2 separate regions of the Homo sapiens genome follow, and region 2 is linked to region 1. The links come from fine-mapping of genetic effects on gene expression. A gene starts in region 1. The other region holds a variant in brackets. All regions are shown on one strand. Distances are between the middles of the regions.

The links. PIP is the estimated chance that this variant, and not a neighbour inherited with it, causes the effect.
Region 2: its variant is fine-mapped to the expression of POLRMT in fibroblasts (GTEx, PIP above 0.99).

Annotation. Positions count from the first base shown.
Region 1 is chr19:631,974-634,865 of GRCh38, reverse strand. POLRMT (RNA polymerase mitochondrial) reads left to right here and starts at 1,329. Exons shown (of 21, transcript NM_005035.4): 1 at 1,329-1,441; 2 at 1,928-2,032. The coding sequence starts at 1,354. It overlaps LOC105372234 (a long non-coding RNA gene), which reads right to left and starts at 1,402. Exons shown (of 2, transcript XR_936226.2): 1 at 971-1,402; 2 at 1-882. RefSeq lists silencers at 1,116-1,375, 1,386-1,545.
Region 2 is chr19:1,282,713-1,285,604 of GRCh38, reverse strand. It overlaps a transcript of EFNA2 not described here. Among named protein-coding and RNA genes, the nearest start is that of EFNA2, 1.7 kb to the left of the region's middle. RefSeq lists enhancers at 1-147, 148-648, 2,172-2,892. The variant C/T (reference allele first, on the strand shown) is at 1,488.

The DNA of each region.
Region 1 (2,892 bases):
CTCCCTTTGCACTTTTTTTTTTTTGAGACAGGTTCTCGCTCTGTCACCCAGGCTGGAGTGCAGTGGCGAGATCTTGGCTCACTGCAACCTCCGCCTCCCGGGTTCAAGCGATTCTCCTGCCTCAGCCTCCCGAGTAGCTGGGATTACAGGTGCCCGCCACCACCCCCGGATAATTTTTGTATTTTTACTAGAGACGGGGTTTTGCCATGTTGCCAGGCATGCTTGCGTATTTGCCAAGCTGGTCTCGAACTCTGACCTTAGGTGATCCGCCCGCCTCAGCCTCCCAAAGTGCTGGGATGACAGGCCTGAGCCACCAAACCAGCTCCCCTTTGCAACTGGGATATTAGCCTGGAACACAGTTACCCCCAGATATTCCTATTCTCACCCTTCCCAAGCCTACTGCCCCACAGCAGGCGCTCCCGCCTCTGGCCTGCTGCCCCGGCTGAACGACACAGGTGGGCACACCTTCCAGGTTCCATTCTAAAGCTCCCGCCCTGCTCCTCCTAGGCAGGATCACGCGGAGACCAGGGCAGGCTCTAGGCTCCGAGGTTTATTTCATTCCCTTGACCTCACCCCACTTAGCAGGTGAATCCAAGCCTGCCGCTCCATTCGGCTCCTGCCCCTGAGGGCTTGGGGATTGGAGGGTAAACTGAAGCTGGAGGCTGGGAGTCTCGCGGACTGGGGCTTTCTCTCCTTGCAGCCTCCCTGAGGTCGCACGTGCTGTGTCTTCCAGCAACTTGGTGGCCCTCTCTGAGCCTCAGCTTCCTCCATGATAGACGGCATCCTAATGACTCTTACCCAAAAGTTGTCGTTGGAGCAATGAAGGTTGCGGACAGGAATCTCTAAATTGCAGATGCTGTCCTCGTTATTAGATGAGTATGCCTTGAAAAAAAAAAAAAAAAAGCCGGGCACGGTGGCGGCGTCTGCAATCCCAGCGCTTTGGGAAGCCGAGGGGCGAGGATCTCTTTACCCCAGCAGTTCGAAGCTGCACTGAGCTATGATCACGCCACTGCACTCCAGCCTGGGCCACAACGCGTCCAAAACAAAACCAAAAAAGAAAGAAAAACAGAAAAAAAGTCCGGATTTGAGGTCCTCGGGAAAACAGCCTGAGAGTGCCTCCCAGTTGCCACGGCAACAGCTCTGTCCCGCCCCCTCCCTTTAAAAACAGCAGGAGGAACCAATCAGAGCGTCCACCGGCGCATGCCTTCGCGCCTCCGCTGCATCCTGGGAGTCTACTTCCGGCTGGGGTTTCCCTTCGCAGCCTCCGTCGACCATGAAACCACAACTCCCGGCAGGCGGCGCGGGCGCATGCGCAGGCGCGGGCCGGTGGGGTGGCCTGGAGCGGCGTGCGTAATGTCGGCACTTTGCTGGGGCCGCGGAGCGGCGGGGCTCAAACGAGCCCTACGGCCTTGCGGCCGCCCGGGACTCCCCGGCAAAGAAGGTAACACAAAGGGAGACGGCCAGGCAGCCCGGGGGCCACGGCGTGGGCTCCTCCCCGCGCGGCCGGGGCCTTTGGCGCTTTGACCTTTGCCTCTTTGCACCTGGGCGTGCGCAGCCCACCGACCCGGCCCCGCTTTCCACTCGCCCTTGCCCGCTTTTCGACTGAGGCTCCTCCGTGCAGTCTGACCTTTGACTCGTGGTTTCTTATGCAGCCTCCTGACCCCAGGTGTGGTGTTTAGGGCTCTTAACCTTTGACCTGCTGCACCTCGAGTGCGAGGAACCCTCTCTCGGCGGTTCCGCGCCCGTGTTCGCCGCGGCGGGGCCCTTCCACCTTCGCTGTCTTAGTTTCTTTCCAACTTAAGCCCGTGCTCCGAGAGTTTCCGCTGCGTTTAGGGCTCCTTTGCCCTTCGACCCTTCGGCTTCTGCCTTTATGGAGGCCCCCGCCCACACGCCCGGCCCCGCTCAGCCGCTCTCGTCTTTCCCGCAGGGACCGCCGGTGGCGTCTGCGGCCCCAGGAGGAGCTCGTCCGCCAGCCCCCAGGAGCAAGACCAAGACCGCAGGAAGGACTGGGGCCACGTGGAGCTGCTGGAGGGTGAGCGCGACCCCCACGGCGGCCCGGGAGAGGAGAGTCCGCTCCCTGCTGCCGGGAGAAAAGGCAAAGGCTCAGATTCTGAGACAGGCTGAGGGCGGTCTCCACCTCTCGGGTCCCAGGACACGCCCAGACGGCGTTGCTGAAACATCTCTTGCACCGCTCATGGGCCCTGTCCTTGCTGAGCAGGCTCCTTCCTGGAGCTCTCGTAATTCCCCCTCCCCAGAACCCCACCAGGTGCTCCCACTTTCCAGGGACATAGGTGAGGCCCAAGATTATGTCTGGAGAGACCCCCCCCCCGGCCCCGCCGCCAAGGCCACATGTGCAGAGCCAGGATGTGAACCCTGAACTGACTCAGCTGTCCTGGCTTGGCTCTGGGGGGTAGGCGCCTAATGGAGACTGGATGACTGCGAAACTTGGGAGGGACAGCCCAGGCTCCAGCGGTGGCAGGCCCTCGTCCTGGCCTGGCTGGTGGTGTGGGAGGGAGGTGGGAGCTTCCCTGTGCTTGCTTCCCGCCGGTGCTTCTGTCCCACATCCTGTCTGCGTCCATTAGGCAGCCGGGAAGGGAGAGGCGGGAGAACCTTTATAAAGGGAAAAAACCTGGCCAGGTGCGGTGGCTCACGCCTGTAATCCCAGCACTTTTGGGTGGCCGAGGTGGGCGGATCAAGAGGTCGGGGGTTCGAGGCCTGGTGCGGTGGCTCACGCCTGTACTCCCAGCACTTTTGGGTGGCCAAGGTGGGCGGATCAAGAGGTCAAGGGTCCGAGGCCTGGTGCGGTGGCTCACGCCTGTAATCCCAGCACTTTGGGAGGCCGAGGCGGGCGGATCAAGAGGTCATGAGTTCAAGACCAGCCTGGCCAACATG
Region 2 (2,892 bases), 650 kb before region 1:
TGGGTCCCGGGCCTCTCACCTGCCCGGTTCCAGCGCTATCCGCAGCCTCACCAACCCCGACGCACGCGTCCCAAATCGGGCTCGGCCAACTCCAGTCTCCCTGCGGGGGCCGGGGCAGAGTTTCAGAGGGGCGCTGGCCAAAGTCCAAAGCTGCTCGGGCTGCGACCTCCCTGGGGCCCTCCTGGGAGTCGCCTCTCCGGACCCACGCTGTTCCCTGGGGATGGAGTAAGTCCCTACACCTCAGCCCTAAGGGTGCCGGGAGCATAGTAGGTGGACCGATGTGGAGTGTGAGCAGCTGGGGATGGGATCCAAGAAGCCCAGAGTGAAGCCCCGGCCGACAGCAAATCAGTCTCCACGCACGAATCCTGCAGGCAGGGGAGGGCCGCTGCCCGGGGGCACAGCTTGTGCAAAGACCCGGGGTCTGATCTGTTCAGGGAACGCCGAGTGATTTCTCCTCCTGGTAGGCTGACACAGGTGGGGAACTGGGGGCCTGGCCTCTGCTTTGTCTTTTTTCCAATCTATAGAGACAGTGTCTGGCCATGTTGGCCACGCTGGTCTTGAACTCCTGGGCTCAGGCGATCTTCCCACCTGGGCTTCCCAAAGTGCTAGGATTACAGGCGTGAGCCACTGCACCTGGCCTGCCCTCTGTTTTTGCCCTTATTCATGCCACAGCCTCCCTCACCAGACTCTGAGCTTGTGGAGGGTAGGCTGTCATCAAACGCTGGCTGGACTTTGCTGGCGATGCCCAGATCGTGTTGTACGTCTCTGAATTAGTGTCATTCACCAGGCCCAGTGCAGGAGAGGGAACTGCAGGGCAAGCACCAACAGCCCTTGGACCCGAAGGTCCCTGTGTGAGGCATTACCCAAACTCCTGGCAGGGACCGTGAACCCAGAGATGGGCAAGCTAACCTGTGCCCCAGCAAGGTGGGGTGGGGACCGGACCCACCACCGTCCCACAGCTCTGAGACGTGGTGGGCTCTGTCCTGTGTCTCCTGCGTGCCCTCCTCCCCCGATTCCCCAGCGGGCCACGCGGGCCACACCACCTGACCTTTGTTCAGGCTGGGTCCTGCTGGGAAGTCCTTCCACTTTTTCTTCCTGTTAAAATCTTGCTCTTCCAGAAAGGTCTGTCCCACCCAGTGCTCTAGCGTCCCTGCCAGGACAAGGTTCTCAGTTCTCTCTCCTCCAGGGAGCTCAGCCCGTCTGTTCTGAGCTCCAGGTCTCATCCCCTGACCCCACTACAGACGTCCCAGGTCGAAGGCCCAGGGCTGGCCGGGTGTCTCTTCAGTGGAGGGCGTGAACCTGTCCCAGGTGGTGGCTGAGGCAGGCCCTCTGGACAGGCTCTCTCAGCACCCCTGGAGTGAGGGCCTTGGGTTCTAGCCACACAAGGCTCTGTAGCCCAGACAGGCTGGAGAAGCTTCCCGGGCGGCTCCGTCTGGTGGGGGGCTCTTTTAGGGAGGGGGACGGCCACTCCCGGAGGTGAGCACTTT[C/T]GGAGCAGAGTGTGGCGGCTGCACCCAAGCACAGGACAAGGGGCCGTGAGCCTGGGGTCTTGGCGTGCCCGGCCCCAGCATGCCACCTGGCAAAGGTGGGAGTTCTGGAAGCTTCCTTCTACCCTGGGACCAGAAGCCCCCTCCTGCTTCAAGGGATCTCGTGGGTGAGGAGGGGTGGGCCAGGGTCGGGAGGAGGGGGTCTCTTCTCAAACCAGGACTGGGACCTGCACAGGTGGGAGCTGGAAGGGCACCACCTCCACCCAGGCATGGCAGGGCCACTCATTTGCATGCAGGGGCCACCGAGGCGAGAGCCGCCACCACCGCCACCGCTGAACGGATTTGAGCAGAAGCTCCGTTTTCCTTCTGTTCTTGTCTCTCTCAAGGTCAGAGCCCAAGCAGGGACGGGAACAAAGGCGGTGCGTCCCCCATTCAACCTCCCCGCGCCCGCTGGCCGCTCCTAGAGGAAGGACCTGGGGAAGGGAGGGGAGGGCAGGGCGTCTCCGAGGCCTGGCCCTGGGCGAGGCTGCCCCGGCAAACCCCTGCCTGGCAGGGGGGCCACTGTGGGGGTCCAAGAAGCCCTGTTCCCTCCTGGGGCTGGGAGCTGTCCCGGCTTTGGGACGCAGCCGCGGCCGGAGGTCACTCTAGAGTAAGCTTCCTGTGGAGCCAAGGGTCAGAAATCAGGCTCACTCTGGGAACAGGTGTCCGCCAAGGTCAGGGGTTATCCAGGGTCGCCCTCAGTCCCTGGTCTGGAGCCAGTACAGGGCTTGATGGGGTCTGGCCCCGCCCCCTGCTCTGCACTGCTGGGACTGGGGTCTACCCAGACTCAGGAAGGGACTTGTCCAGCCCGTGCCCAGCACCCACTGCCCACATGGCCAGGCCACAGGGCTTGGGATCAGCGTCCCGCAGCCCCTCAGCCTTCAAAGGCCGCGACGCCAGGAGGAAGCTAAAAATATGCGGGGAGAATTTCTCATTACAGAATAAATTGGACCCAATGCGCTGCCTGCCCTGGTGCCGGCAGCCTTCAGAAGCCCCATCTCAGCCAGGCAAGGATCAGGCGGCAGGGGTCACGGGGCGCTGGGGCCCGGGCAGGTCACAGGCTCCACTCAGGGCGGGAGCCCCACCGCTGTCCATCGCCCCCCACCTGCGAAGCACGGAGCTGGGGTCTGCGCTTAGCCCCAGGGGCCAGGGGCGTTTCCCCTGGGCTGGGTCGCTGTCCTTGAAAATAAAAATGTATCCCTTTCTCCAGTGGGTAACATGAAAATCCCCACCCCCATCCAGCCATGGACCCAAGATTCCTGCAACCCCTGCAGCCAGTGGTGGAAAAGAGCAGGCACACAGCCCCATTCCCAGCTCACCCTCCTCCCTCCTCCCCAGCTCCCATCCTTCCCATTCTCCTCTCTTCACA